4 linked regions of the Homo sapiens genome follow. The protein of the gene in region 1 interacts with the protein of each later gene in a pairwise test. Each region holds a gene or a part of one and is shown in the gene's direction. Other genes may lie near its edges.

Evidence for each region.
Region 2: the proteins of FXYD6 (region 1) and TMEM154 interact in binary tests that used the Homo sapiens proteins (3 or more experiments, as listed by UniProt).
Region 3: the proteins of FXYD6 (region 1) and TM4SF18 interact in binary tests that used the Homo sapiens proteins (3 or more experiments, as listed by UniProt).
Region 4: the proteins of FXYD6 (region 1) and FPR2 interact in binary tests that used the Homo sapiens proteins (3 or more experiments, as listed by UniProt).

The regions. Positions count from the first base shown.
Region 1 is NC_000011.10:117,838,524-117,845,756, reverse strand, and holds part of FXYD6 (FXYD domain-containing ion transport regulator 6 precursor), read left to right. Parts: intron 1-1,550; exon of another isoform or gene 1,551-1,647; intron 1,648-2,975; 5' UTR 2,976-2,980; coding exon 2,981-3,038; intron 3,039-3,728; coding exon 3,729-3,767; intron 3,768-3,891; coding exon 3,892-3,966; intron 3,967-4,572; coding exon 4,573-4,609; intron 4,610-5,388; coding exon 5,389-5,438; intron 5,439-5,926; coding exon 5,927-5,955; coding exon of another isoform or gene 5,956-5,976; intron 5,977-7,233. Other genes in the region: FXYD6-FXYD2 read-through protein isoform 1 precursor, read left to right, coding at 2,981-3,038, 3,729-3,767, 3,892-3,966, 4,573-4,609, 5,927-5,976. UniProt on the Homo sapiens protein: Associates with and regulates the activity of the sodium/potassium-transporting ATPase (NKA) which catalyzes the hydrolysis of ATP coupled with the exchange of Na(+) and K(+) ions across the plasma membrane.
Region 2 is NC_000004.12:152,676,899-152,684,790, reverse strand, and holds the start of TMEM154 (transmembrane protein 154 precursor), read left to right. Parts: upstream 1-4,793; 5' UTR 4,794-4,857; coding exon 4,858-4,921; intron 4,922-7,892.
Region 3 is NC_000003.12:149,330,485-149,337,619, reverse strand, and holds the start of TM4SF18 (transmembrane 4 L6 family member 18), read left to right. Parts: upstream 1-3,983; 5' UTR 3,984-4,107; exon of another isoform or gene 4,108-4,116; intron 4,117-4,181; exon of another isoform or gene 4,182-4,220; 5' UTR 4,221-4,237; coding exon 4,238-4,414; intron 4,415-7,135.
Region 4 is NC_000019.10:51,757,047-51,764,403, forward strand, and holds the start of FPR2 (N-formyl peptide receptor 2), read left to right. Parts: upstream 1-4,133; 5' UTR 4,134-4,184; intron 4,185-6,315; exon of another isoform or gene 6,316-6,471; intron 6,472-7,357. UniProt on the Homo sapiens protein: Low affinity receptor for N-formyl-methionyl peptides, which are powerful neutrophil chemotactic factors. Binding of FMLP to the receptor causes activation of neutrophils.

The DNA.
Region 1 (7,233 bases):
AGTGGTGATCAAAGAATCAAAAAACTGTTTCCTCAAAATTCTTGCATGTGTGCCCTGAGCAGTATGCACAAAAATGTCCACAACTCTATTTGTAATAGCATAAAATTGAGGGGGAAAAAGAAACAGACATCCATTGGCAGGAGACTAGAGCACTACATGATCATTTACCTGCACAATGGAATATTACACCACACTGAAAATGAATGCACTATAGCTAAATGTAGTAAGTCAGTGAACCACAGAAGCATAATGTCGGACAGAAAAAGCAAGTTTCAAAAGACTATAAACATGATATCATAATTATAAAGTTCAAAAAAGCTACACTAAGCAACATAATATTTAGATATATGTACGTGTTAAATATATTTTTAAGACAAAGAGCAAGGTGAATATCCATACAGTGGAATATTATTCAGCCATAAAGAGAAATAAAATATGCATACATGCTACAAGGTAGATGAACCCTGAAAACATTATGCTAACTTGAAAGCCAGACACAGAAGTCCATGTATTTTATTATTTCATTTATGTGAAATGTCCAGAGTGGGCAAACCCATTGAGACAAAAAGTAGATGAATGGTTTCAGGGTTGAAGGGAAGGGGAGTCGGGGGTGACTGCCGATGGATACAAGTTTCTTCTTGGGAGGATGAAATGTCTTGGAACCCGAGATTGGTGACGAATGCATAAGTTTGTAAATGTTCTAAAAATCACTGAATTGTACAGTTTAAGATGGCAAACTTCCTGATGTGTGAATTGTATATTTTAAATTGTGGAAAGAACACTTACTATGAGATCTACCCTCTTAACATATCTTGAAGTGTGCAATTCAATATTGTTAATTATGCTGTACAGTGTTATACAGCAGATCTCTAGCACTTACTCATTTTGCATAACTGAAATTTTATATCTGTTGATTGGCAGCTTTTTAGAAGAAGAGCAAGGGAATGATTAAAAATATGTATTTTCAGCCAGGCGCGGTGGCTCACGCCTGTAATTCCAGCGCTCTGGGAGGCCGAGGTGGGTGGATCACCTGAGGTCAGAAGTTTGAGCCTGACCAACATGGTGAAACCCTGTCTCTACTAAAAATACAAAAAATTAGCTGGGTGTGGTGGTGCATGCCTGTAATCCAAACTCCTTGGGAGGCAGAAGCAGGAGAATCGTTTGAACCCGGGAGGTGGAAGTTGCAGTGAGCCGAGATCGCACCATTGCATTCTAGCCTGGGCGACACAGGGAGACTCAGTCTCAAAATAAATAAATAAATAAATAAAAATAAAAATATATATTTTTGGGATACTGGCCACCTCTGGGAGAGAGGCAGGGGGATGGGGTGGAGGGAAATAGAGGTCACTGCAGCAGTCTTTGTAAAGCTCCATTTCCTAAGCTGCTGGTTTATGGGTGTTTCTATTATTACTATGCCTCATTATATGTGTATGTTACATATATTTTTATACATATAAGATACAGTGTAGCATTCAAAGGAAATACAAGTGTGAAATGAGACAGCATTGAAAGCAAATTACCACCTTTTGATAAAGGCTTTTTGAATCAAGGTTTGGGCCTTGACGTGGCTGTGGATGCAGTCGTTCTGACCCCTGGTGGCCGAGAGGTGAAGTGCAGTGGCGGCTGCTTGCTCAAGGCCGGAGGAAGGTAGTGACCGTGCTGGGGGCAATCAGGGTCTTGGACTGGACGGATGTCCAGGGGTTCAGGCCACTGCCAGTTTCACCCCACATGGAAAACAGCACCCAGCCTTGGGCTTTCCTGGTTCAGGAAAAGCCTCTCTGTCTCCTCTCTGGCTCTTAACCATGCTCCTTTAAGCCCAGGAGTGAGATGTGTGTCCTGCCATTGAAATCTATCCCTGGGTGCCACCTCTTGGCCCTGCCTCCTGCTTCCACCAGGATAGCCCACCTGGGGCCATCCACCCAGAGACCAGGACTGATGAGCTCCTGAGCAGAGACCTCCGCATCCTCTGGGGAAGCAGAGGCTGGGGTGCTGAGGCTCGTGGAACCAGCCTTCAAACTCCTTTTGTAGAATCAAACCACCTTTCTGGAGGATTCTGAACCAAAGCCTGTGGGAAGAGCTGACTTGGGGACTTTTGAGGTGGGACGTAAAGGGTACCTGAAGGAGGGCTGTCAGCGCTTCAGGGCCCAGGAAACCACAAGTCTCCTCTCCACCCAGCTGGCTAGACTAGAGGGACACTGGTTTACTGGCCCCATTTAGTCTGATATTAAGAGACATTTCTGATGGGGTATTGGCTGTCAGAATGAACTAGGGATGGCCACAGAAGGGTGGCCTGGAGAGAAGGACACAGTTGAGATCTTCAAAGTCACGTCCCAGAGGCAACGTGGTGGAGGAGTTACCATGCTGGGTTAGGATCTAGGCCCTGCTACTCACTCTGGTGCATGTCAGCCTCATTAAGCTTCAGGTTCTCGGCCTGCGTTAGTTGTAGTGCTTGCTAATTGTACTAACTCAATTGTGCCAATTGAATTAATACATGCAGAGCATTCTCTAAGAGTCCAAGAAATGTCAACTGGTGGTGGCTCACGCCTATAATCCCAGCCCTTTGGGAGGCTGAGGCAGATGGACCACTTGAGGTCAAGAGTTCGAGACCAGCCTGGCCAACATGATGAAACCCTGTCTCTACTAAAAATACAAAAAATTAGCCGGGCATGATGGCACACGCCTCTAATGCCAGCTACTCAGGAGGCTGAGGCAGAAGAATCACTTGAACCTGGGAGGCGGAGGTTGCAGTGAGCCGAGATCATGCCACTACGCTCTAGCCTGGGCAAGATAGCGAGACTCTGTCTCAAAAAAAAAAAAAGTCAACTGCTTGTGCTTAGGTTGTTTGAACCCTCACCAAGTCATGAGTGCAGAGCAAAGCTGGGGATTTGGCTTGGCCCCTGGTCAGGCTGACGCTTGGAGCTGACGGATGGAGGCTTCTTAGCCAGAGAATCATTTTTTCCTCCCTCTGTCCCCAGACGCCATGGAGTTGGTGCTGGTCTTCCTCTGCAGCCTGCTGGCCCCCATGGTCCTGGCCAGTGGTAAGTACCCCTCTGGGACCTGGCTGTGACAAGATGACAACCCTGTCCAGCCCTCTCTGCTGGAAGGTTCTGGGCCCCTTGGGACATTAGGGCTGGGGGACTCTCACGTTCTTCATGTCTAGTCAGGGGCCTCTCCCTTCAGTCAGCAGAGAAAGTCGTGGAGGTGGCAGCTATTTATTCACAGACCTCAGCACAGCCTGCCCCCTCGCCCCCTAAGGGTCCGGCAGGGAGTAGTTTTTAAGCCCCGCAAGCTCACTGCGCCTCTGTGGATTTGTGGCCTGAACCCTGGGATTCAGACCTGCACATCAGTCTCTAGACCATATTAGCAAGTGCTGGCCTCGTGCAAGTCATATGTCCTTCCTTGGTCTCGGTTTCTCCGTGTGTCACAAGAGGAAAACTGACCCTGCCTTCTGGGGATGATGTAAGAATACAAAGGGGCAATGAATGTGGGTGTTGCATGACTCAGAGCCTCACTGAGTTTCGATGCCTTCACTGACCTCGGCCCTTAGGGTTCCCCTAACCCCCTAACTGGCAGGCCCGCCCTACCGTGCACCTCTAGGCATCTCTGTTTAATGGGCCCTGCTCCTCTGGAATTCCTTTGTGGAGACTGAGGTCTGTGAGGCAAGGTTAGATATTTGGGAACCAGTTTGTGTAGCTTTCTTTCTCTTGACCAACTGTTTGTTTTTGCAGCAGCTGAAAAGGAGAAGGAAATGGACCCTTTTCATTATGGTGAGCGATGGCAACCCTGGGTGCAGGGGTCAGGGGGAATGCAGCCCTGCCTGGCAGGAGGGGTAGGGGGAACAGACACCCTCTCCCTGGCCCCTTCCTCTCTCACCCTTGGTTCCTTTGGCAGATTACCAGACCCTGAGGATTGGGGGACTGGTGTTCGCTGTGGTCCTCTTCTCGGTTGGGATCCTCCTTATCCTAAGTAAGTTTGTTCTTTTGCTCACTCTGTTAAGAGCAATGACTGAGGCTGCTAAGCAGGTGGGGACAGTGTGAGAGCCTGGTTGGTCCCTCTCCTGGAGAGGAAAGGAGGCTGCCTGCCCTCCGTGTTATCTTCACGACCCAGTAGAGTGCTGGGCACATAGTAAGTGCTCAGTAAAACAGTGACACGGGAACAAAGAAAATGTCATATGACAATGAGCATAGATAGGAACGAGCAGGGTGGCTTCCCAGTGCTGTGTCTATAGGGCATGAATGGGGCAGTCACGGAGGAAGGAGACAGGTGCTGCCCTAGTGTGCGAGGGATGTGCCTCCGAGTTTGTTGTTCCCACATGAGCCTGATCTGCACAGATCCCTCTTTACTCACATGATCAAGAGGGCTGTGGGGGTGTAGCCATTCCAGCTATAGAATGTATTTCCTTTGCCCCAGAAGAAGCTACCCCATCCGAGGGCCACTGTGTGCAGCTGTGCAAACTGTGCACTGCCCAGGTCTAGGGGGTGCCATTTACATAGTCCCACAACCTGCACAGACCCTTGGCCCTGCTGTGGCCAAGCCAGCAGCATGACCTTGGATGGTTTCTTTGCTTTTCAGGTCGCAGGTGCAAGTGCAGTTTCAATCAGAAGCCCCGGTAAGGATGCCGTGGCAGTGGCCTTGGGGGGGTGATACTAGGTGGGACAGGAAGGGACCCCTGGTGTGTGACCCCCAAATGGGCATTCTCTTGGATTCTTGTCTCGGAGGCAGAACGTGTGTGTTGGGACGTAGGGCTGGAAGTTTGAGGACTGCCAGGTAGACTCTGGGGCAAAGGAGAGGTCAAAACATTGAAGGTCAGCCCATCCTGTCTCTTCTGATCTATGTGGGGGACGGGGAGTGGACAAGAAAGTACTGGAACCTTTTCTGGAGGCCCTTGGGACAGTTGAGCTTGGGAGAAGGGAAGCAGAGGGCTTCCTGGCCTCTCTAGATGCCCAGGTCCTCTCTACAGGACCTGCGACACAGTCCCCACTTGTCACCTGTTCATGAGGCTCTTTGAGCTGAATAGACACTTGGACCTTCTTTCTACTCCCACATAGAGGTCATACCCCATTAGTTTACTATAATAGCCAAGGGTAGCTTGGACCCCAGAAGTCCAAAGCGTGTGGCAGGACACACCCAAGCCCCCATGTGGCCCTAGCCTCCCCTTCCCATGAGGGCTGACATTGAAGGGTGCCTGTAAGTTCCCTCTGAGTCTGACCCTTCAGTCCAGACCTTTCCCTCTGTCCCATGCATCCCACAGCAGAGTGAGCTCCAGCCCCTCAGGGCACTGGGAGGAGCCTGACTGCAGGCAGCTGTGCCCCAGTGAGGAGCAGAACGATGCTCTCTGGGTCTGCCCTGGAGATCTCTGATGGGGCTGTGTGTCTCTTTCTCCTGCAGGGCCCCAGGAGATGAGGAAGCCCAGGTGGAGAACCTCATCACCGCCAATGGTAACTGTCCGTGACCACCTGCCCAGGTGGAAAAGAGGGAACAGAGAGACCCCTCTGTGGCTCAGGAAGGGACTGTTGCCAGGTGCATGGCCAGCCAGACATGCTCCCGCAGTGCCAGGAGAGTGGGTCTCCAGGGCCTCTGCAGCATTGCCCCCTCACTCCACCAAACAGGCTACTACTAGTGTCACCTGCTATTTACAGAGCATCTGCTTGTGCCAGGCACAGACCCCATATCATTTAATGGGCACACAGCCCTGAAATAGGCATCATTGTCCCCATTTTGTAACCGAGGGACTGAGAGAGGTTACCAGGTTCCTGTAAGCAGCAAGTAGCAGGGCCAGGATTGAACCCAGATCGTTCTGACTCGAAATCCCATGCCCGTCACCTCTTTGCTCCCCCAGAGTCAGGCAGAGACACGGCTGCTGTTGGGGGTGGCCCACGGGGGTGAGGAGTCTATACACTATAATCCATTCTGGTTTTCTTTCCAGCAACAGAGCCCCAGAAAGCAGAGAACTGAAGTGCAGCCATCAGGTGGAAGGTGAGATGCTCAGTGCCTGGATTGGCCCCTGTTGCCATCACCGTCTGCATCAGGGCCTGGACAGGGGTTCAGGCGGGAAGGATGGGGCTAGCTTTTGCAGTGGGCACAGCTTTTATTATGGGCCCTGCCCTGAGGAGCCTTCAGGAGTCTGAAAGGGGCTGTGAGAGAGACCAGGACTAGAAACACCCGAAGTGTCCCACACACATGCATGCCAACACCAGGAAATGGGGCTTCCACACAGCCCACTGGCCGAGTGCATAGGGCGTCATCCCAAGTGCAACATGGGAGAATTAGAGTTAGTGAAATGCTCCTAATCTCAAAGTAGCATAAAGATAATGGCTTTCCGTGGTGACTCAGAAAGTACTTTAGGGCCACTTGTTTTTTTAAACACCTTATTATGAAACTTCCCAACCCTAACCAAAAGTAGAGCAAATAGTATATGATCCTTCCCTCTCCACATTTAAGGGCACTGATTTTAGTATCTATTTCCATTGTTCATCGTAGGGGGCACAGGAGAGTAGTAACTGGCAAATGCTGTACAGTTTTCAGAGTGCCACCACACACACAGACTCACTCGAGTCTGCCAGAAAAAGAGGATGGGACAGGTGGGGTTTAGCCCATTTTATAGGTGAAACCAAGATGAGAGGGAATAGCCCCGTGGAGAGTGACAGCCCGGACTGTGAACTCAGGCCTTTGCGGCTGTGGTTCAGCGCCACTGCTCCCCTCTGTCCTGTGCGTCTCGCTTTATGACATGCCCTGGAATATCCTAAGGGAAAAGGTTTGTGTTTTGTCAGCTCACTTCTGCCTTTTTTTCCCCCCATACAAGTAAGGCATTATAGAAAGGTATATAAGTTTATCTCACATTGTAAGGTAAAAGAGGTTTCTGGATGATGAAGTGCCCGATGCACCAGCTTTGACTGTGCGTAACAATATCGTGTGCCTGTGTAGCATTTAAATTCTTTCCTAAGTGCTTTTGCATCCTCATAGCGGCCCGTGATGGGCAGAGCAGGGCTCATTACTCCCGTCTTCTGGATGGGGCTCTCGAAGGCAAGTGATCACCTAAGTGCGAATGGACGAAGATTCCGATCTAGGAGGCAGGTGCCCTTCCTGGTAGCTTGGTGTTCTGTCTATTTCATCACAGACTGAGAATCTGGGAAGGCTCAGAGGAGGCAGCCTGGAAATGAAATGTCTTTTCATTTTTTTTTTCCCAAACTAGTTCTTTCTCAGAAACCTTTTATCCTAAGGCTCAGGACTGTG
Region 2 (7,892 bases), on another chromosome or scaffold:
GATGGGTGTTATGTGGGTGGCAGTAAAGGATGAGCATTTTGTTCAGCTTGGGTTAGGGGGAGGAGGAAGGCTTCTAAGATAGCTCCCTGGTGGAGATGTCTTCTAAATTAGGGCTAGACAGATGAGTTACAGTTAGCCAGGAAAAGAAATATTCCTAGAAATGGTAAAGACACCTGGGCTAATAAAAGTTACACAACCAAGCTTCAACTTTTAGTTCCAGGCCTCCTGGCAGTCAAGGCAAAACAGGAAAATACAACGTGCTTTTTATTTCTTACCTTTGGAGAAAAGGGACCTTTCTAGGAACTAGCAATAATTTCCAGGAACTAACTAACACATGATTCTCGAGTTTTATCTATCATGCATAAAAATCCCCTCAAACATTACAAATACAGAGTTATGGACCTCAGCTCTAGGGATTCTGACTCAATAGTTCTGGCATAGGGTCCAGGACTCTGAATTTTAACAAGCTCCCCTGAATAATTCTAACATAGGTGGCCCCCTCCAGTGCACTTAAAAAAATACTGCTGTAAAGGGATTTTCCCCCCATTTACTCACTTCTCTGTTCTCTGTCCTAAATGCTGAGGATAGACTGGAGAGCAAGACAGAGAATGCCATTGCTCTCAGAGGGCAATTAGAGGAGGACTGTGGATGTTCAGCAGTGAGCTGCTGCTCTGTCTCTTAGATACGCCCCAGCACCCTCTAGCCCAGAGCGCTGCACTGTGTCCCACGTGTCAACTGCCACTTTAGCTCCTAATCACAATCCTTTACAGTTTCATGTTGTGGTGACCAGGCCATCTACCTAGGCCCTGGAAGACCCTGTCATGGAAGCCCCTAGGATTATCCAAACCTTGCAACAGTTTCTCTGAAGAGTATTGGCAGCCAGGATGCAGAGACAGAGACCCCCAAGGGTGGAGATAGGCTGGTCAAGATGAGCCCGGCTGTGCAGGCTCCAGCTGCCCCCACTTCACGCGCAGTGAGATGGCTGTCAGCCCCTCTCCTGGCTGTGGCTTCTCTGCACACGCTAAATGTCAGCCTAATCCTTCTGCCCCAGCCTCTGCCCTGCCCGGCTACCTCTCTGGGCATTCCTTCAGAACCTGGGACTTCAATCTGCCTCCTCCCTGCACCTTCCTAGCTGGCTTCAGAGTGATACACAGGCCCCACCTGATGTTACTATTATCTTGTTTGAGGGCCAGCCCACAGCCAACCAAACACCCAGGAACCATCCACTGTCACTAGCAGGCATTTAGACAGAGAAAGAAGCTCCAGAACATTTGTATGTGAGTGTCGATGTGAGAGCGTGTGTGTGTGAGCACGTGTGCACATTTCTGAGTATGTGAGTGTGCCTGTGGGTGTGTGTTGGGAGACTGGATGTACAAATGGACAGTGGCCAAATAATATATGCAAAAACAGAACACTGGCTCCCAGCTTGCAGCAACCAACCCCCAGAAACCAATTCACTATCTTCAGTAGCAAGTCTAGGAAGCCAGCCTGCTAGAAATCAAACTTGTAGGAGGTCAGAGCACCTTCTGACAGATTCCCTCATTTTTATCTCCTCTTCTGATCTAGCAGCAGCAAAATATGCACCTCCTCACCAATCACTAGAACTTGCTGCTGGTTCCCCATGCCAGCAGCCTCCCTTCAGGCCATACCTGAGCCTTCCTTTTGTTTTTTTTCTGAAACGACTCTTGCTCTGTCGCCCAGGCTGGACTGCAATGGTGGGATCTCGGCTCACTGCAACCTCCACCTCTCAGGTACAAGTGATTCTTCTGCCTCAGCCTTCCGAGTAGCTGGGATTACAGGTACCCCGCATCATGCCCGGCTAATTTTTGTATTTTTGTAGAGATGGGGTTTTACTATATTGGCCAGGCTGGTCTTGAACTCCTGACCTCAGGTGATCCGCCCACCTTGTCCTCCCAAAGTGCTGGGATTACAGGTATGAGCCACTGCACCCGGCCCTGAGCCTTCCTTTTATCGACTGTAAAGTTATCTCATTCCTTGGCCTGCCTTTGGGTCTGTGCCAAAATGCAGCGATGGTGGCTGACTCTCTTGCTATGGCAAGCTCTGAATTAATATCCATTGCTTGGTTTCATTTGCTTGTGCTCATTTAGTCTTCATTTATTTCCACCATGTGCATGAATGTGTGTGTGAGAGACAGCTGTGTGTGTATCTGAGTGCATGTGCACATCTGTGTGTATTGGGAATGGCAGGATCGGAGTGTGAAGAGGAACGCGGAGAAGGCTGTCTGCACCCACTGGAAGATCCTATCATTTATCTGGATTTGTTCCCTTGGAGTCCCTCTTCTTTTATGGCCCATGGAGTGGTGGTGGGGAGGGGGCGGGGGGAAGGGAGGGAGGATAGGATGAGAGTCACTTCTGTAGCACAGACAGTTGATTGTAAAAGTCACACTCCTTTGTGTAAAGTAATAAAGAGTCCCTAGACATGGTTCCCAGTGTCCCTTCCTGCCCTTCTGAACATGATGAAGCACCATACTTCTTTCCTGCTTTCAGACAGCCAATGGCAGGCTCCAAAGTGGCATTACCCCTGCCTGTGTGCCACTCACTCTGAGGTTCCCCTGTGCCCCACATCTGGGACTGAGGCCCTGACTTCCTGCCACCAGTGCATCGGGATTTAATCTGAGGCTGGGTGGCTATTTGCCTAAATTAATGGTTGCTAAAATTAAAACAGAGGTAAATAGCCCTTTACCTACCACACAGCCTCCCTGGGATTTTAACTGCAGCAAAGAGATCATTGAGGTGCTACCATTTTCTGATCAATCATGGTAATTTTCTTCCCCCTAAGATCAGCTTAATCATGCTAAGGGTCTTAGAGAGCACAGGGGTCAAAAGAAAATTACATGGTTGGGCAGGATTTCTCTGCAGCTCCAGTTTATTTTGTACCTCACTCTGATTTAGTGTTGCACTGCTCAGAAGCAATGCATAGTGCACTTGTTGAAACAGTAATGAACTGTTTGGCCATGTCATGGGGCTCAGCAGAGGTCCACAGAATAAGACAGTCTGTGGTCCAATCCACAGACACCTGACTGCAAAAGCTTCCACAGGGAGCTGAAGTTTAAGATGAAAGAAACGAAGGCTGACAACCTTGCCCTTGACAAACATTTGCCTCCAGCCTGGGATTCAACAATGTTTTAATAACATTTAATAATATTTTAATAGGGCATAAATGGTAAAATGGAGAGAACTCCCAAGCCCTGGGCCTGCTTTCTTGCACGTGTGTGTCACAGCTGCAGAAACACGTGCTTGTACAGGAATAATTGCCACCCCAACTCAGTACCAGCAGGTCTTGGAGCCCGTGATCTATTCACATGCTCAGCAAGTGTTTAATTAATAGTTCTTTCTCTGTTGTTTTCAAATCAATCACCCAGTTTTGAGCACGTCTATTTTCTCCTGCTGTTTGTTCTGTATTGTCACCTGTGGTGCAAAAAGCATATTTTATCAAGAATTGACTTAATTGCCAGTTTAAAACATTAAAGTGCATACTGTAAATCCATTAACAAACTGATCCTTACATGAATCACCAACCTATTTCTTGTGAATAATAACTGAGATAAACAGTGACTAATGACATTGAAAAGCAGCAATGCATTAAAGAAAAATTAACAGCTATGTCAGGGGCTAAGGAATTCCAGTCACCTCATACGTTTGCACCAACCAGATCACTGAAGACAAACGACGGGAAGTCATGACTCAGATGGTGATCTGCAGGGAAAGGTTTAGAGATGAGATGTGTCTGATGCCTCAACACTACCCCTCTCTCCATCTGTCTGTCTCTCTTGGCACCACGATTATGAAACTGCATTCTGAATGCTTAGGCCCTAAACCTAAACCAAGGGAAGGACCTCCAATAGAACACCCAACACACACTAATCTCCACTGTATACTAGACACAACCTTTCTGTATTGTTTCGATTGGATAGGATTTCTACCATTATTCTATTTCGTTTCTGTCCTGTTTTGTTTGTTGTCTGAGAACTTGATTGTCAAGTAAGAAGGAAGGAAGGTGAGATGCAGATTCACCCCTACCTCCACCCTCAGAGCATATTCTCCTTTGGAAATGGACCTTGAAAAGATCATTTCTCTCTGGGGAAGCAGAACATAACCTTAAGGTGTGGGTGTGGCATCCACCTCCATCTGGCGTGGGCCTTGGTGGGAGGAGGGCATTCCAGAGTGGAGAAAGGAGAATGGACCTGGCGGAGAGAAGTGGTCTGGCAGTTTTCTGATGATGCAGTTGTCCCTGCTGTCTGGGCCTGCGCTATCCAACACAGCAGCCACTAGCCACTTGGAGTTATTAAAATTTTATAAAAATTCAATAAAATTTAAATTCCATCAGCACTAGCCTCAGTTCAAATGCTCAGTGGCCAATGTGGCTGATACTGTATCAGACGGCGCAGACTTGGAACATTTCCATCAGGGCAGAAAGTTCTACAGGACAGCTTCTTCCTAGGGTCTAGGCAGCCCCGGAGCCTCACCTGGGGGATAAGCAAAATCACAGAGTGAGAATGCGTGTGGTCCAGGACCCCTCCCAGTCCCAGATACCGAACGACATCTGAGCAAGGGACTCTGTTGCCCCGGGGACGGTTTCAAAAGCTGGAGGCCGGGACTCCAAAGGGCTGGAGAGGCGTGATAATAGAACCAGTGCTTCAACAGCAACTTCTCTTTTGCAATCCTTGCTGGTCTGACAGGCTCCTGCAGAATTACATCACTTCCTAAAAAACAGGCACACACCTCTCCTTCAAGTCAGCACCGACCCAAACAAGCAGGAAACAGGAAATGTTCACGTTTCAGAGAGGCTGCAGCCCGGCGCAGCATCCTGAGCGCGCCTCTGCCGAGGCGAGCGGACATGCAGGCTCCCCGCGCAGCCCTAGTCTTCGCCCTGGTGATCGCGCTCGTTCCCGTCGGCCGGGGTAAGCCGCCTCCACTTCCTACTCCTGGGAAGGAGGATCGCAAAAGCTGGTAGGGTGCCCGAGGCTACAGAACTCTGCCGGGGAGGGTGACACCCAGAAAATCTAATCCTTTCTGTGAAAGAAGTGGAGAAAATTAGAACTCCTTTTTTTGGGGGGTGGGATGGAGAGGGGACTTCGCTTTCGCTGCAGCTGTCTAAACTGGCTACAGCTCTCACTTCATTTAACCCTCTTTCAGTCTTTGTCTTCCAGGAAGTGTGCGTCCCTGTAATTTACCAGCTTTAATGGGCATATTAAGAAAACCATAAACTTTTTGGCAGTTTATGTAAAAAAAAACAAAAGCTTCAATTGGCTGAAACAGAGACATGATTAATTTGCTTTTTATGGTGTGGGCTGAGAAGTCTGCTGATTCCAAAATCTCCTGGAAAAACTGGGGTGTGAAAATTTACTACTAGAAAGCATACTAAAGAAACGACATAAACTTAAAAAAAAAAAAAGGAAACGGGAAATTATCCGAAGAGCTACCAAAGAGCTATGTGTTAGAGGGTAGCCCTCTAACACATCAAGTAAGGTCTTTCATCTACTTTTATTGCACCTTGTTACTTTTACAGATTTTTTTTTTGCATTGATTGTTACTAATGAAGATTTGTTTGAAAAAGTAATATGATTGGAACCAATCAAAGGTATTGGAAAAAACAATATTGAATCTCATTATTATGGGCTAAAAGCAACAACTGATTTACACCCTTGCCAGTTGCTACAACAAGCACAAGCACCTTCAGCTGCCTCTCTTGTTGACTTGCCTTTGGGCAAATACACTGGCTGCCCATTGTTTCTGTCAATGAACACCGACTGCTTCTAGTGTAGGGCAGTATTTACCAAGCAAAAGGAAAGTTCTCAAGCTACAGTTCTTTAGATAGAATGAGGGACATCAGCCCCAACCTAACAGATGTGACAACTTCCTGGAGGTCAGCAGCCAGCACCCAGCCACCCCACTCCATCAATTTCTCTTCCCCTGGGTGTTCTCCATGTGGTCCCCCAGGCATCTGAGGTAGAAAACAAAGTGGAAGGCAAATCATTCCAGCTGAAAAGATGTCTGGTTAAATTGAGTTTAGTGTTCAGAGTGGGTTTGGAAGTTGATGTGTTGTTTTATGCCCAGTGTTTTGGAGCTGGAAGGGAACTTGAAGATGATGCAGCTCAAACCATATTGGGCACACAGGTGAAGAAACAGAGGTGGAAGAAGGGAGATGTCTGGGTCTTGCTGCTAGTCAGCTCTTCTGGCTTCTACTCCAGAGTTCTTTGAGCTCCTCCACCCCCCACCACCACTGCCCCCCTCCCCCCACCGCCGCCCCGGAACCAATCACTGTCTCTGCCAAGAGCTCTGGAACCTTTCGTAGTAGGACATCAGGGAAGAAAAGCCTAGCCATCCTCCTTCCACCTCTTCTATTGCACAACACTGCCACAGGTGCCTCAAACACTCCCTTAATACTAATTCATCTTGCCTGAACTTTTTTTTTAGCTTCTAAAAAATGATTGAGTCCTAGTGTCTGCAATTCAGGAGATGCAAAAAGAGAATCTGAAGAGACTTGGTTAAAGTTGCCTTTCTGACACCTGAATCTGATCGTGCACATCTTCCCCCTTAAGGACCCCTCATTTATGCCCCTTCACTTGTTCCTCATTTTTGCCCCTTAGACTCTCACTGCAACCTCCTTCCCAGTGGCACCTCCTTCCAGTTGTCGTCCCCCTCCGTGGCTCTTGCCTATAATGAATACATTCTTTTTCCTACCTAGCAAATTCTTGTATCACCTTAAAAGTATCAAACTAAATGTGATCTCCTCCTTGATGTCTCCTTTCTCTGCCCCTTCCCTGGAGCTCTACTCGTACCTGCTGCTGTGCCCCGATAGACCTAAACTTCTGCTAATCACTTTGAACCATAATTGTGTCCATGCCTCCCAACTGGCTGTGAACAGCTCCAGGGAAAATCCTCTGTAGTTCACCTTTGACTTTCCAAAATCCTGTAAGGGCTCAGCATAAATGAGAAAATAATTGTTGATAAATATGAAAATCATCCCTAGAATGGATATGAGGCTGATTACAAAAAAAACTGATAGCTCCTGAAAACAGGTAGTGTTGGAATGTAAAGAGAAGTCAAAGATGAAAAGTTGCATTTCAGTAGAGTGCAGGGATTACCTAAATAATCCAACATGCTAATTGGGCCCTGCTGGGATTCCCAATGTCTGAAAAATGCCCACTTGCAAAAAGCTGTTGAATAAAAGCTATGACTTTGAGATGATTCATCATGGAAAAGGTGATTTTAAATTAAAGATTTTTAAAATTAATTAATGTACACTACTTTTAGCTAATAGTGCCTAAGGCTTCAGGATATGAGTTACTTTCTAGGTGTCACAGGTATATTTCCTTGAATTCTTCAAAAAATACCTGGGGATGTTTGTTAGATGAATCCAACCTACTGAAGGGCCTGACACTGTTTGTGAGTATACTCTGAGATGTATCTCAAATTAAGCCTTTATTAACAACGAGCAGGCAACATGAGATAATATCTGCAGTTGCATGAGACCAGCACTGTTACCTCTGAGTCAGCGACCTCTTCTCTTTTTAGAGATAGATAGCCTGACATAGAATTGAGTTCTACCCCAAGAGAAATAATTCACTTGGAAGTCACCAGGAGAGAAATAAGAAAGCAGCTTTTCTGGGACTATAATGGAATGGGTGAGCATAGTTAAAGGAAAGCTTGGGCCTAGGTGCCTTGGCCAGTGTAGGATCCTAAGAAAGTTCAAACTCAAGGAGATGTTCTGCTCATGGAGTAAAGTGGGGCAGGGGTGTCCCCGTCTCTGTTCTTTATGCCCTGTCAGTGTCAGCTTAATACTATCAGAAAACCAAAAGCAATTTCCTAAATACCAAAAGCATGGGATTTGTTAGTTGCTAAAAGCAGAATTGTTGCAGAAGGGAGAGC
Region 3 (7,135 bases), on another chromosome or scaffold:
ATGGGCATTTGGGTTGGTTCCAAGTCTGCTATTGTGAATAGTGCCACAATAAACATACATGTGCATGTGTCTTTATAGCAGCATGATTTATAATCCTTTGGGCATATACTCAGTAATGGGATGGATGGGTCAAATGGTATTTCTAGTTCTAAATCCTCCCTCAAGCTTATTTTCTTTCATTCCTTGAAGAGTCTAGCACCTGGCTTTCTAAATGTAGTCATTCTCTCCCAAACTGACATTGTCTAATTTTTTATTTTAGTATTCATTATAAATGATAATTCCAATACACTTCCCTTTCCATTCCTTTTCACCAGTCATCTTGTCCTCCACCTCCCTACACTACTCACTCCTAGGATCACAACTTGTGTCAGTCTGCTAGGACTGACATAACAAAACACCACAGACTGGGTGACTTGAACAAAAGACATTTATTTTCTCACAGTTCTGGAGGCCAGAATTCCAAGGTCAAAGCAGATTTGTAAGTTATGTGCCAAATCTCAAAGCAGATTTGTAAATTATGTGCCAAATCTGTGTTGGCAGATTGGTTTCTCCTGGGGCCTTTCTCTCTTTGGCTAGCAGATAGCCACTTCTCACTGTGTCCTCACACAGTCTTTTCTCTTTGCACCCCTGGAATCTCTTTGTGTGTCCAAATTCCCTCTTTTTATAATCTGATTGGATTATCCCCACCATGCTGTCCTCATTTTAACTTCATCATCACTTTAAAGGCCCTATCCAAATACAGTCACGTTTGAGATTATGGGGGGTTAGAACTTCAACATGTGCATTTAGGAGAGACATGATCAGCCCATAACACACCTCCAGACTTTTTCTTCGCCTATTCCTGAAACATCTCTAAAATCTCAAATTCCAGCATCACACTTCTCAATCACTACTTCCTCTCTTTCTAGCTCACTCTGTGTGTTACCTAAAACCAGTAATTTTTCAGCCACACTGGGACACACAATTTACAAATCCAGTGCCTCTTTTACTATTTCTCACACTCCCTCACGTCCTTACTTCCCTCCTTACTCAGCTTAAGTTCCACAGTCCATCATTATAACCATTCACTTGCATACATTCTTGAATCCTTTGCCCATCCCTCTCTTCATGGTATCTGCCTGGCAAAGTCCCAATCCTGGTTGACTCCAGCTTTCTTCCTACTTGCTGGCTACACCTCTGCCACTGAACCTTACTAGGAAAAATACCCAAGTCTCCTGTCCAGTCTCACTATCCATTCACGGTCACAGACTCAAGTGGTCCCTCAGCACCTGCCACATTTCTCTAGTCTGTTCATTCTCCCACTTTCCAAGCCAACTGTTTGAACTTCTCCTCTCTTCCTTTAAACCTTTAACACCCTCTCCCCATCCTCATTCTCAGCTGATAAAATTGCCTCCTGTTTCCCTGAGAAAACAGAAGTATAATAATCAGAAGTTCCCGCTAACCACCTCCAAGCCCATTGCTATGTTCTCCTTCTGTTCTGTTGCTGACACTGACCTGCCCTGCTGCTATCTAAGGTAAGCTCCTCCATCTGTTCACACACTCCCACCCTTTCTCACCTACTCAAGGAGCCTGTGCCAGCAATCCTCTCCTTTATCTCCTTTATGGTAAATACCTACCTACCCTCCCTCATACCCCTTCCCACAACAGTATACAAATATGCTACCATTTTTTCCATTAATTTTTGTCCCTTGACTTCTACTTTTCCTCTAGCTGCTGCCCCATTTCTCTGCCCTCCTTTACAGCAAAACTCTCCAAAAGAGTTACCTCATCTATTTCCAATTTCTCTCCTCCCATTCTCTCATGAATCCACTGCAGATGGACTCTCATCTCATCTCTAACTCACCAAGAAAGCTCCTCTTATGAAGGCCACCAGTGACCTCCACGTTGCTCAACCCAATAGCCGATTCTCAGTTCTTTCGTATGATGTGCCCTTTGGCAGCATTTAACTTTGTTGATCACGCCTTCTTCTTCTTAGAAAGTCACCTTTGAGAATAAGCTCCTGATCTTCATTTCTGGCTCACTGGCCATTTCTCAGTATCCTTTCTGCCTTCCTCTCATGTCCCTAAACTCAGTCCTGGGCTGCCCAGGATTTAGTCCTTGGGTCTCTTTTCTATCAACATGCATTTCCTTAGTGTCTCATGGGTTTAAATACCATTTATATGCTGACAACTGTCACATTTATATGTCACCCAGACCTCTTCCTTGAACTTCATATTTGTATATCCAGCTGCCTAGTTGACATCTCCACTTGGATTTCTAAAAGGTATTTCAAAACTTAGCACATTCGAAACTGACCATATCATTCCTCTTCTCCCAACCCTGCTCATTCAGCTGACTTGCTCATTTCTGTTAATGACAATTTTATTCTCCCAGTTTCTCGGGCCCAAATGATGTCGTCTTTGACTTCTCTCTTTCTCTTATACCCACATCCAATCTGCCACCAATCCTGTTGGCACAAGCTTCAAAATATATCCCAAATCCAGCTTCCTTTTTTTTTTCTTTTATTATTATACTTTAAGTTTTAGGGTACATGTGCACATTGTGCAGGTTAGTTACATATGTATACATGCGCCACGCTGGTGCTCTGCACCCACTAACTCGTCATCTAGCATTAGGTGTATCTCCCAATGCTATCCCTCCCCGCTCCCCCCACCCCACAACAGTCCCCAGAGTGTGATGTTCCCCTTCCTGTGTCCATGTGATCTCATTGTTCAATTCCCACCTATGAGTGAGAATATGCGGTGTTTGGTATCCAGCTTCCTTTTACCACCTCTGCTGCTACTACCATCATGATCCGAGTCATCATTATCTCTTACCTGGATGGTGGAAATGGCTTCAGAACTCATCTCTATCTCCTCCACACCCTTTACCACCTATTTACAACACAGCAGCCAGAGTGAACCTTTTAAAACATCAAGCACAGTGCCTGCCACATAAGAGATGCTCAATGAATGCTCAACCAACAATGTTATTCTCTTCCCAATCATCCCAGGAACTCTAGTAAATATGATTTTATGCTGCTTCTATGTGACTGGAAAAAACGTCTAATGCCCAGATTTTTTGATGCACTTAGATCAAAAGCACTAGAGGGAAAAAAAACCATATCCACAAGGGGGTGCCAAGAAACCTCTTTGGAACCTGGACTGCTAGTTTCTTTCTTTCTTTCTTTCTTTCTTTCTTTCTTTCTTTTTTTTTTTGAAACAGAGTCTTACTTTGTCACCCAGGCTGGAGTGCAGTGGAACGATCTCGGCTCACTGCAACCTCCGTCTCCCAGGTTCAAGTGATTTTCCTTCCTCAGCCTCCAGAGTAGCTGGGATTACAGGTGCCCAGCACTATGCCAGCTAATTTTTGTATTTTTAGTACAGATGGGGTTTCACCATGTTGGCCAGGCTGGTCTTGAACTCCTGACCTCAGATGATCCACCCGCCTCAGCCTCTCAAAGTGTTGAGATTACAGGCTTGAGCCATTGCGCCAGCCCTACCTTTGTTTTCTTAATAGTAGGAAAAATATGCCTTTATTTCTGTTATGATTTTTCAGAGAGGTAGAGATAATAGATGCAAACTCTTGGAAGGAAAGCTGTACTGATCTAACCAAGATATTTTGTTTTTCTCATCCACCAGTCACTTTCTCAGTCCTTTCTTATCCCTTGCAATTTGAACAAAGCTTGGTGAATAGTGTGCACACAAAAAGCACACTAGGTGAAAGACAGATACATAAAAAGGGTAAAGTCAGGATATTTTAACAAACCTATCAAGCTCTAAATATAAGCCTCCTTGGTAGTTTTCTCTTTAACCCTCTCTCCACTGTTGGATGAAATTTGCTGCATTCAATTCCAGTTCCCACCCCAACTTCCTTCTTAACACAAGGTCAGGGTTAAGCCTTCGGTGCTTTAATCCAGAGGAAAATTACTTATTTTAAAAAGCAGTGAAAAACACCGCATTCCTTTGGCACAGGATGAAGACCAGCTCAGCTCTTCAGTTGTTGATCATTGTCTATTGTTCTCCAAACAGTAAACCAGTATTTCACACTGAGATTGTCGGCTGCGGGTATATTCCAATTCCCCGTCTCCTCATGAATATGAAGTGAAGGGCTCTGACCCTGGAAGTGGTAGGTAATCTCAAAAAAAAAAAAAAAAAAGAGAGAGAGAGAGAAAAAAAAGGTCAGGTAGGAAGAAGAAAAATAGACTTTCTGTGACTGTATACTCTTGAAATCTCCCGCAGGTTCTAAGCAGGGCAAAATGGGGTCTCGGAAGTGTGGAGGCTGCCTAAGTTGTTTGCTGATTCCGCTTGCACTTTGGAGTATAATCGTGAACATATTATTGTATTTCCCGAATGGGCAAACTTCCTATGCATCCAGCAATAAACTCACCAACTACGTGTGGTATTTTGAAGGAATCTGTTTCTCAGGCATCATGGTAAGTATGAATTTGGAGACTTGGGAGAGAAGGGGGAGTTGTAATTGAGACTTACCTTGTAACTAGTAGAAGTAATGAATAATGGAAAAATCATTCTGCTAATCTTGGGTGTAGGATTTGAAAGAGGGATGGGGGTGAAGGGGCAGGTAATCTGCTGGCATTTGGGACATAGCTCTGTTTTCAATAAGCTGCTCAGCAATGCAGCCTCAGTAATGCAGGAAATTAGTCCTAATGAAAGTCTGTGGGACACTGGCCTGTAAAAACAGTATGTTCTCATGAACCCTGCATATCAATTTAAGCTATTTGATCTTCAGTGGCATTACTGTTTTCTAGAACAGATTTTCTGTCTGCACTCATGTTTTTCTAGCTTGAAGGGGCATTAGGACAGCATGAAAAAAAAGCAGAGACTTGGCTATTCAGACAAACCTGCATGTAAATCTAAGCTCTGTCATTTGTTCCATGAGACCTTCAGCAAGTTACTCAGTATCTTTGAGCCTCAGTGTTCTAATGTGAAAAATGTGAATAATGGCATTTACTTTTAAAGATAAAATATATATAAAGTGCCCAGGAGAGAGACTGACATGTAGTAGATAGCCAGTGACTGTTGTAATTATGATTATTAAAGAATGAGCTGTGTCATCATTAAAATAGTCCTACATTAGACCCTAATAATGGAGGGAGTTTTTGAAAAGTAAATTGAATTATCAATGGCAAGAATCCATGAACGTTTTCCTGATGACTTTGTGTTCTTTAAAAATAAACAAACTGAGAGTAAATCATGTTGGCAACTCAGAGGAAAAGACAATTTCCTGGTCAAGTCATTTCTAAAAATAGTGCATTATGGACTGTAAGCTAATCAGACCACCAATAATGTAGAAGAAAATTCATTATAATCTATTTCTACATCTTTTAGGGGTTTTTAATTATTATATTTGAATAGCTGTGTTGTAAAGCAATTTTCATTTAGTTATTCATTTTGCACATTAAATTAATAAACTTTAAAATATTAATATCCAATGCTATTGATGTTGCTATGAAATAAGTACATAACTAATATTGGCTGCACTACAAATAAATGTCAGTCTTTTCGGGAAGAGTTTGGTATAATATATCAAGATCCATGAAAATGCTTATGTCGTTTGACTCAGTAATCCTACATCTCATCATTTTTTCTGAGGAAATCATCCAAAATAAGGGAAGAGCTATGTGTGCAGATGTTTGTGGCTGCATTGGTATAATAGTAAATAACTAGAAGAAGCATCTTACAGAGAAGTAGCAAAATAAATTATGGTACATTCACTTCATACAGTGGTGAAAATTATAATTATGAAGATGTAACAACGTGGAAAATGCACATTATTTCATGTTAAGTGAAAAGAGACACAATAACATTGTGGGTAAATTACTATTGCAGCTGTGTCAAATAGACATATGTGGGAAAACACCAGAAATAAATGCATGAAGACTCACGAGGGTGGTGGAATTATGTGTACTTTACCTCCATTATTCTTGACTCCTCTGTATTGCAGTTATATTTTAAAACAAAAAAAGAAGGCAGTGTCTCTTTCAACAGTTGATGCCTGAGCAATAAGACTACAGGCTCTAGGTCAAATTATCTCTATCAATATTGTAATGAAGCTGGTTACTATGCTTTGGCCTTGTCTCATCATTGTTTCCCTCAATATGCAATTGCAATAGATGGAAGAGTTGCAAGACATAACTAAGATTAGACCAGAATTTCTTTCAATCTGTCATAACTAACGATGTGGAAAGGAGGGGAATATAGGACTCTTTTGCTTATATTCCATGTAAAAATTAAAACTAGGAAAAGAAACCTGTTCTCTATTTTTTTCATCTTCCAGGAATTATTAAAATATATTACTATAACTGCATCAAATCCTTTTAGGAGAAAGGAGAAGAATATAGGTAAATAATTAAATGAACAAAAAAATTAATGAAAGCTGAAGAAATTTGGAAACTAGAAACATTGGCTACGAAGAGTAAAATAACAGTGAACTCAGCTGTGGGATTCAGTCCTAAATAGTGAGAGTAAAAAAATGGGTGGAGAATTTCCCATAAGCAATTCATGATCTGTATCTAGTCTAACCAGAAATTATAATGAAATTATAATGGTAAAGAAATACATGTTCTTTCCAGAGCTCTGGCCTTTTGCCTAAAATAAAATTTAAAAAAAGGAAATAAGATGCATTGATTCTCCCACTTTGTTGGCTTGATACAGACAAAACACATTGAAACAATTTAAACCTGAGATGGTTTGAATGCATGGGGAAATTGAAGTCACTTTAAAGAGATATGGTTTCAGATTAACTGAGCCTCTCACCTCCATTCCCAGAGGACAGTAAATGAAGAGAGGCTGGCAAACTACCAAGCCTGCTGAATGATTTTCCTTGGTTCTCCACAACTGAGTCATTGAGAAAGGCAGGTTTTGCTGCCCAGGGTGGTATTCTCCTGTCCATCCATTTACTTCTCCTTAATCATTAGCTTTTGATGGTTGCTAACCATGATAATAATAGCTAACATTTATCAGTCACTATGAATCAACCACTATACTCAAAATGTCACATATATTACCTCGTGACGATCTCTTGATACCATTTTATACAGAAGGTGTCTCAAATTCACACAGCTAGAAAGTGACAGAGCTTGGATTCAAATCCATATCTACCTGACCCCAGACTCTATGCTTGAAGACGCTGTCCT
Region 4 (7,357 bases), on another chromosome or scaffold:
CTGGGAGCATTCTCAGAGCCATCCCTTTGCAGGGGGACTCTAGAGCAATGTTTTCTGGAAGCACACACCTGACAAGTCACTCTCCTGCTTAAATAGCTTTTAAGCAGAAGAAATTGTAAGAAAGAAATTTTTTTTTAGACCAATATCCTTGATGAACATTGCTGCAAAAATCCTCAATAAAATACTGACAAACCAAATCCAGCAGCACATCAAAAAGCTTATCCACCACGACCAAGTGGGCTTCATCCCTGGGATGCAAGGCTGGTTCAATATACGCAAATCAATAAATGTAATCCAGCATATAAACAGAACCAAAGACAAAAACCACATGATTATCTCAATAGATGCAGAAAAGGCCTTTGACAAAATTCAACAACCCTTCATGCTAAAAACTCTCAATAAATTGGGTATTGATGGGACGTATCTCAAAATAATAAGAGCTATCTATGACAAACCCACAGCCAATATCATACTGAATGGGCAAAAACTAGAAGCATTCCCTTTGAAAACTGGCACAAGACAGGGATGTCCTCTCTCACCACTCCTATTCAACATAGTGTTAGAAGTTCTGGCCAGGGCAATTAGGCAGGAGAAGGAAATAAAGGGTATTCAATTAGGAAAAGAGGAAGTCAAATTGTCCCTGTCTGCAGATGACATGATGGTATATCTAGAAAACCCCATTGTCTCAGCCCAAAATCTCCTTAAGCTGATAAGCAACTTCAGCAAAGTCTCAGGATACAAAATCAATGTACAAAAATCACAAGCATTCTTATACACCAATAACAGACAAACAGAGAGCCAAATCATGAGTGAACTCTCATTCACAATTGCTTCAAAGAGAATAAAATACTTAGGAATCCAACTTACAAGGGACGTGAAGGACCTCTTCAAGGAGAACTACAAACCACTGCTCAATGAAATAAAAGAGGACACAAACAAATGGAAGAACATTCCATGCTCATGGGTAGGAAGAATCAATATCGTGAAAATGGCCATACTGCCCAAGGTAATTTACAGATTCACTGCCATCCCCATCAAGCTACCAATGACTTTCTTCACAGAATTGGAAAAAACTACTTTAAAGTTCATATGGAACCAAAAAAGAGCCCGCATTGCCAAGTCAATCCTAAGCCAAAAGAACAAAGCTGGAGGCATCACGCTACCTGACTTCAAACTATACTACAAGGCTACAGTAACCAAAACAGCATGGTACTGGTACCAAAACAGAGATATAGATCAATGGAACAGAACAGAGCCCTCAGAAATAACGCCGCATATCTACAACTATCTGATCTTTGACAAACCTGAGAAAAACAAGCAATGGGGAAAGGATTCCCTATTTAATAAATGGTGCTGGGAAAACTGGCTAGCCATATGTAGAAAGCTGAAACTGGATCCCTTCCTTACACCTTATACAAAAATTAATTCAAGATGGATTAAAGACTTAAATGTTAGACCTAAAACCATAAAAACCCTAGAAGAAAACCTAGGCATTACCATTCAGGACATAGGCATGGGCAAGGACTTCATGTCTAAAACACCAAAAGCAATGGCAACAAAAGCCAAAATTGACAAATGGGATCTAATTAAACTAAAGAGCTTCTGCACAGCAAAAGAAACTACCATCAGAGTGAACAGGCAACCTACAAAATGGGAAAAAGTTTTCACAACCTACTCATCTGACAAACGGCTAATATCCAGAATCTACAATGAACTCAAACAAATTTACAAGAAAAAAACAAAAAACTCTATCAAAAAGTGGGCAAAGGATATGAACAGACACTTCTCAAAAGAAGACATTTATGCAGCCAAAAGACACATGAAAAAATGCTCATCATCACTGGCCATCAGAGAAATGCAAATCAAAACCACAATGAGATACCATCTCACACCAGTTAGAATGGCAATCATTAAAAAGTCAGGAAAAAACAGGTGCTGGAAAGGGGAGAAATAGGAACACTTTTACACTGTTGGTGGGACTGTAAACTAGTTCAACCATTGTGGAAGTCAGTGTGGTGATTCCTCAGGGATCTAGAACTAGAAATACCATTTGACCCAGCCATCCCATTACTGGGTATATACCCAAAGGACTATAAATCATGCTGCTGTAAAGACACATGCACACGTATGTTTATTGCAGCACTATTCACAATAGCAAAGACTTGGAACCAACCCAAATGTCCAACAATGATAGACTGGATTAAGAAAATGTGGCACATATACACCATGGAATACTATGCAGCCATAAAAAATGATGAGTTCATGTCCTTTGTAGGGACATGGATGAAATTGGAAATCATCATTCTCAGTAAACTATCACAAGGACAAAAAACCAAACACCGCATGTTCTCACTCATAGATGGGAATTGAACAATGAGGAAACATGGACACAGGAAGGGGAACATCACACTCTGGGGACTGTTGTGGGGTGGGGGGAGGGGGGAGGGATAGCATTGGGAGATATACCTAATGCTAAATGACGAGTTAATGGGTGCAGCACACCAGCATGGCACATGTATACATATGTAACTAACCTGCACATTGTGCACATGTACCCTAAAACTTAAAGTATAATAATAAAAATATATATATATATAAGAAAGAAATTTTAAGAAGAAATTCTAAGTTCTTTTTACAGCATTCAAGACCAACCAAGAAATTGCCTCTGCCGCCCTCTACATACTTAATGCTTATTGCTGTCTGCCTTATCATCTATGCTCTGGTAAACAAAAGTAACCTGCTTTTTTGTGACCCCTTTCGTGGGTATTTTTACTCCCCTCTGACAAGAATGCATTATTTTTTCTCCTTTATCTGAGTCTTTAAGACTCAGCCTACATGTTCCCTCCTCCGGATATTGACTCTAGATCCGTGAATCTGAGTTAGTGGTTCCTTTTAGAGGACCTCACAAGGAGCCAGGCATCTGTCTATCACTACGTGCCCCCACCCTATTGTAACTAAGCACTGCATTCTCACCTCTCTATTCAGGTGGTCCGCAGAGCCCATGTCTGATTGATCTCTATGTCTCCAGCAGCCAGCAAGGAAGCACCTCTTTAGAGACCTGCACCTATACAATACCTACCACCTTTTATTTCTCGATATGTGAACTCCATTGAGAACAAACGAGTAAATGTAGGTAATGTGCCTTCTTCTTTTCTTTTCTTTTCTTTTTTTTTTTAGATGGAGTCTCGCTCTGTTGCCCAGGCTGGAGTTTAGTGGCACAATCTCGGCTCACTGTAACCTCCGCCTCCCAGGTTCAAGCGATTCTGCCGCCTCAGCCTACCAAGTAGTTGGGATTACAGGTGCCCACCACCACGCCCAGCTAATTTTTTTTGTATTTTTAGTAGAGGTGGGGTTTCATGATGTTGGCTAGGATGGTTTTCAACTCCTGACCTCAAGTGATCCACCCACCTCGGCCTCCCAAAGTGCTAGGATTACAGGTGTGAGCCACAGCGCCCAGCCAGTAATGTGCCTTCTTAAGTTCTGTGAGCCATTCTAACAAATTATCAGAACAGAGGAAGGGGTTATAAACATCCCCCCACCCCCGATTTATAGCCAGTCAGTCAGAAGTACAGGTGGCCACCTGGGACTTGGATTGGTGTCTGAAGTGAGGACAGTTTTGGGAGAGTGAGCCCTTTAACTTGTGGGATCTGACACTAACTCCAGGTAGACAGCGTCGGAGCTGAATTGAATTGTGAGATACCCAGTGGTGTCCCCAGAGAACTGGAGAATTGCTTGATATGGAAAAGACCCACACATTTGATGCCAGAAGTACTGCATAAGTCGAGAATTGAGTTTGACTTAATCATCATATTTGGGCTTGATTGCGTGGCTGAAACTCTTCCCACTTCAGTAATTGTTTCTTTCATTTTCATGAAACTCTGAAGAAGGAAGGGCTGGACATTCAGATTCCTTGACCCTTGACATTTGGAAGCATGAACTCCAGTCTCTCACAGAAGGCTAGAGGTGAAGGAACATTCAGACACATTGGTTTCTAAGAAGAGTCCGCTGACAACATACCCAAGGTGTCTTCTGAAAATTATAAGAAATCCTGAGTTTCTGTTAGGGGATTGGCTCCAGCTCCATTGTCCCTCCCCCATCATTCAGTAGTCTCCGCGAAAGCCCTTAGAGCCGGTGTTGCTCCACAGGAAGCCAAGAAGCACACAGGAAAAGGAGCTTAGCTGCTGGTAAGTTGGGGACTGACAATTTAAAATTTATCAATGGAACTCCTGCTCTCTGACAAACACCTCCTAAATTCTAGAGCAGTGCTGTAATGGAGCATCCACTTGCCACAGGTGGCTTTTGAGTGCCTATGTTTCTATCTTGATCTGAAATGTGCTTAAGTGTAAAATATACTTAGTGTAGTTTAATCATTAGTATGATCAAAATAATACAATTTATCTCGTTAATAACTTTCATTTTGGTAACGTGTTCCAATGATTTTTTTTATTTGCGGGGTTAAATGAAACATATTATTATAATTAATTTCTCCCAATGATTTTACTTTTTTAACATGGCTACTAGAAAGTTGTAAGTCACGTGTGTGGCTGGCATTTAGGGCTTGCATTACCCTGTCTCTACTAAAAATGCAAACAACAAACTAGCCAGGCGTAGTGGTGGGAGCCTGTAATCCCAGCTACTCAGGAGGCTGAGGCAGGAGAATCGCTTGAACCTAGGAGGCCGAGGTTGCAGTGAGCCGATATCGTGCCATTGCACTCCAGCCTGGGCAAGAAGAGTGAAACTCTAACTCAAAGATAAATAAACATGTGAAGGAGCCAAGTGTGAGGAGCTTAAGAGGAAGAGCATGGTAGGCAGAAGGAACAGAGAAGGCAGAAGCCCCGAGATGACAATGAGCTGCATGTTCAAGGAATCAGAGCCCGTTATGGGTGGAGCCCAGTGTGTCCCACGAGAGTGCAGAGATGAGGTCTGAGGAATGCACAGGGCAGGTCCAGGGGTACTTGAGGGAACTTAAGATAAGGATAAGTTAGAAGTTTGGAAGCCATTAGAAGGTGTTGAAAATAGCATCACCATTTTATTGGACCTTTTTTTTTTTTTTTTTTGAGACAGAATCTTGCTCTGTCGCCCAGGCTGAAGTGCAGTGGCGCAGTCTCGGCTCACTGCAAACTCTGCCTCTCAGGGTCAAGCGATTCTCCTGCCTCAGCCTCCCAAGTAGCTGGGATTACAGGCACCCGCCATCACGCCCAGCTAATTTTTGTGTTTTTTTAGTAGAGACGGGGTTTCATCATGTTGGGCAGGTTGGTCTTGAACTCCTGACCTCAGGTGATCCACCCACCTCAGCCTCCCAAAGTGCTGGGATTACAGGCATGAGCCACTCCCGGCCCTTATTGGACTTTTTTTTTTTTTTTGAGACAGAGTTTTGCTCTTGTTGCCCAGGCTGGAGTGCAATGGCACGATCTCAGCTCACTGCAACCTCCGCCTCCCTGGTTCAAGCGATTCTCCTGCGTCAGCCTCCCGAGCATCTGGAATTACAGGCACGTGCCACCACGCCCAGCTAATTTTGTATTTTTAGTAGAGATGGGGTTTCTTCATGTTGGCCAGGTTGGTCTCGAACTCCTGACCTCTGGTGACCCACCTGCCTCGGCCTCCCAAAGTGCTGGGATTACAGGTGTGAGCCACTGCACCTGGCCCTTATTGAACTTTTTAAAAGCTCATTTGGTTTCCTTCTGGAGATTGGATTGTAGGGCAGGGGAAAGTAGGACCAGGAACAACCTATTTGCAAAGTTGGCGCAAACATTCCTGCCTGACAGGACCATGGACACAGGTTGTAGAGATAGAGATGGCTCTGGCTGTGCATTCAGCAGATTCTGTAGATAGAATTAATAGGACTTGGATGGGATTGTGGTGAGAGAAAGTGAAATGAAAGATAAGTTCTAGTTTGGAAGTTTTAACAACTGAATGTTTAAACTCAAATAGACACAAAATATTGGAAGAGTGGCAGGTTTGGGAGGATGAGACAATCAACTGTTTGGTTGAGCCACGTTAGGTTTGAAATGTCTACGGGACTCCCGTGGGGAGAGGTTATATCAGACTGGAGCACCAGAGAGAGGCCAAGGCTGATAGTTTAGATGAAAAGAGAGCATGATATTTTAAGCCCTGAGACTGGATAATATCACCTATAGAAAGACTATATAGAGATAAGAGAGGTGGGGAACAAGTAAAAGCTGCGGGACACTCCTAAATTTAGAGTCAAATTTAGAGCAGAAAATACTAGCAAAGGGGACTGAAAAGCGGTGGCCAATTGAGCTTCAAATGCAAGTGAAAGTGTGTTGTGTGTACATTTATCATCTCATGGCACAGGAAAAACGTGATTTAAGGAGAAGGAAGCGATCCAATGGGAAGAAGAGATCCAATGGATCCTCTATCACGAAGATATTGAGATAAGAACCAATATGGATTTGCACCCACTGCATTTGCAGCCTTGAGGTCATAAGCATCCTCAGGAAAATGCACCAGGTCAGTGCTAAGGACTGGAGTCAATACAGACTGGATTCAGGAGAAAAAGTGAGGCAGGGAATCAAAGGGAGCAAACACAGAAAACTCCTTCCAAAATCTGGCTGCAAATTCTTTTCATAGAAAGAATTCTCTCAGGAGAAATAGGGTTAACACCAGAAAGGAATATAGTCCAAGATCTTTTTGGTTGTTTTTTGTTTTGTTTTTTGGGGTGGTTTTTATTTTGTTTTTGTTTAGTTTTGTTGTTGTTTGTTTGTTTGTTTTTGAGACGGAGTCACTGTTGCCCAGGCTGGAGTGCAGTGGTGCGATCTCAGCTCACTGCAACCTCCGCCTTCCGGTGTTCAAGAGGTCTTCCTGCCTCAGCTTCCCAAGTAGCTGGGATTGCAAGCGCGTGCCATCACGTCCAGCTAATTTTTGTATTTTTAGTAGAGATGAGGTTTCACCATGTTGGCCAGTCTGGTCTCAAACTCCTGGCCTCAAGTGATCCACTTGCCTCAGCTTCCCTAAATGTTGGGATTACAGGTGTGAGCCACGGCACCTGGCCAAGGATGGTTTCTTTTTAAAGGGAGGGGATATGATTTATGTAATGTTTATGTAATAGTGAGAATGATCTAGTAGAAATAAAATCTTGAGGGTTTGTTTTTGGCAGAAAATGGAAGGACAAATGCAGGGGGAAAGTTTGTGGGAAGATGAGAGGGCATCCTGGGCCAATGCAGGGAGGGAAATTATTGGAAAGAACAAGAAGTCTTTATTCACAGTGACAGAGGCAGGTAGACTGAGGGTCAGGGGAGGACCGGCTGAAAATTTCACATCTAGTTATTACCATTTTCTCATTATAATGTCAGTCAAGGGCATCTGCTGAGAGTGGGAAAAACAGAGTAAATGAGGT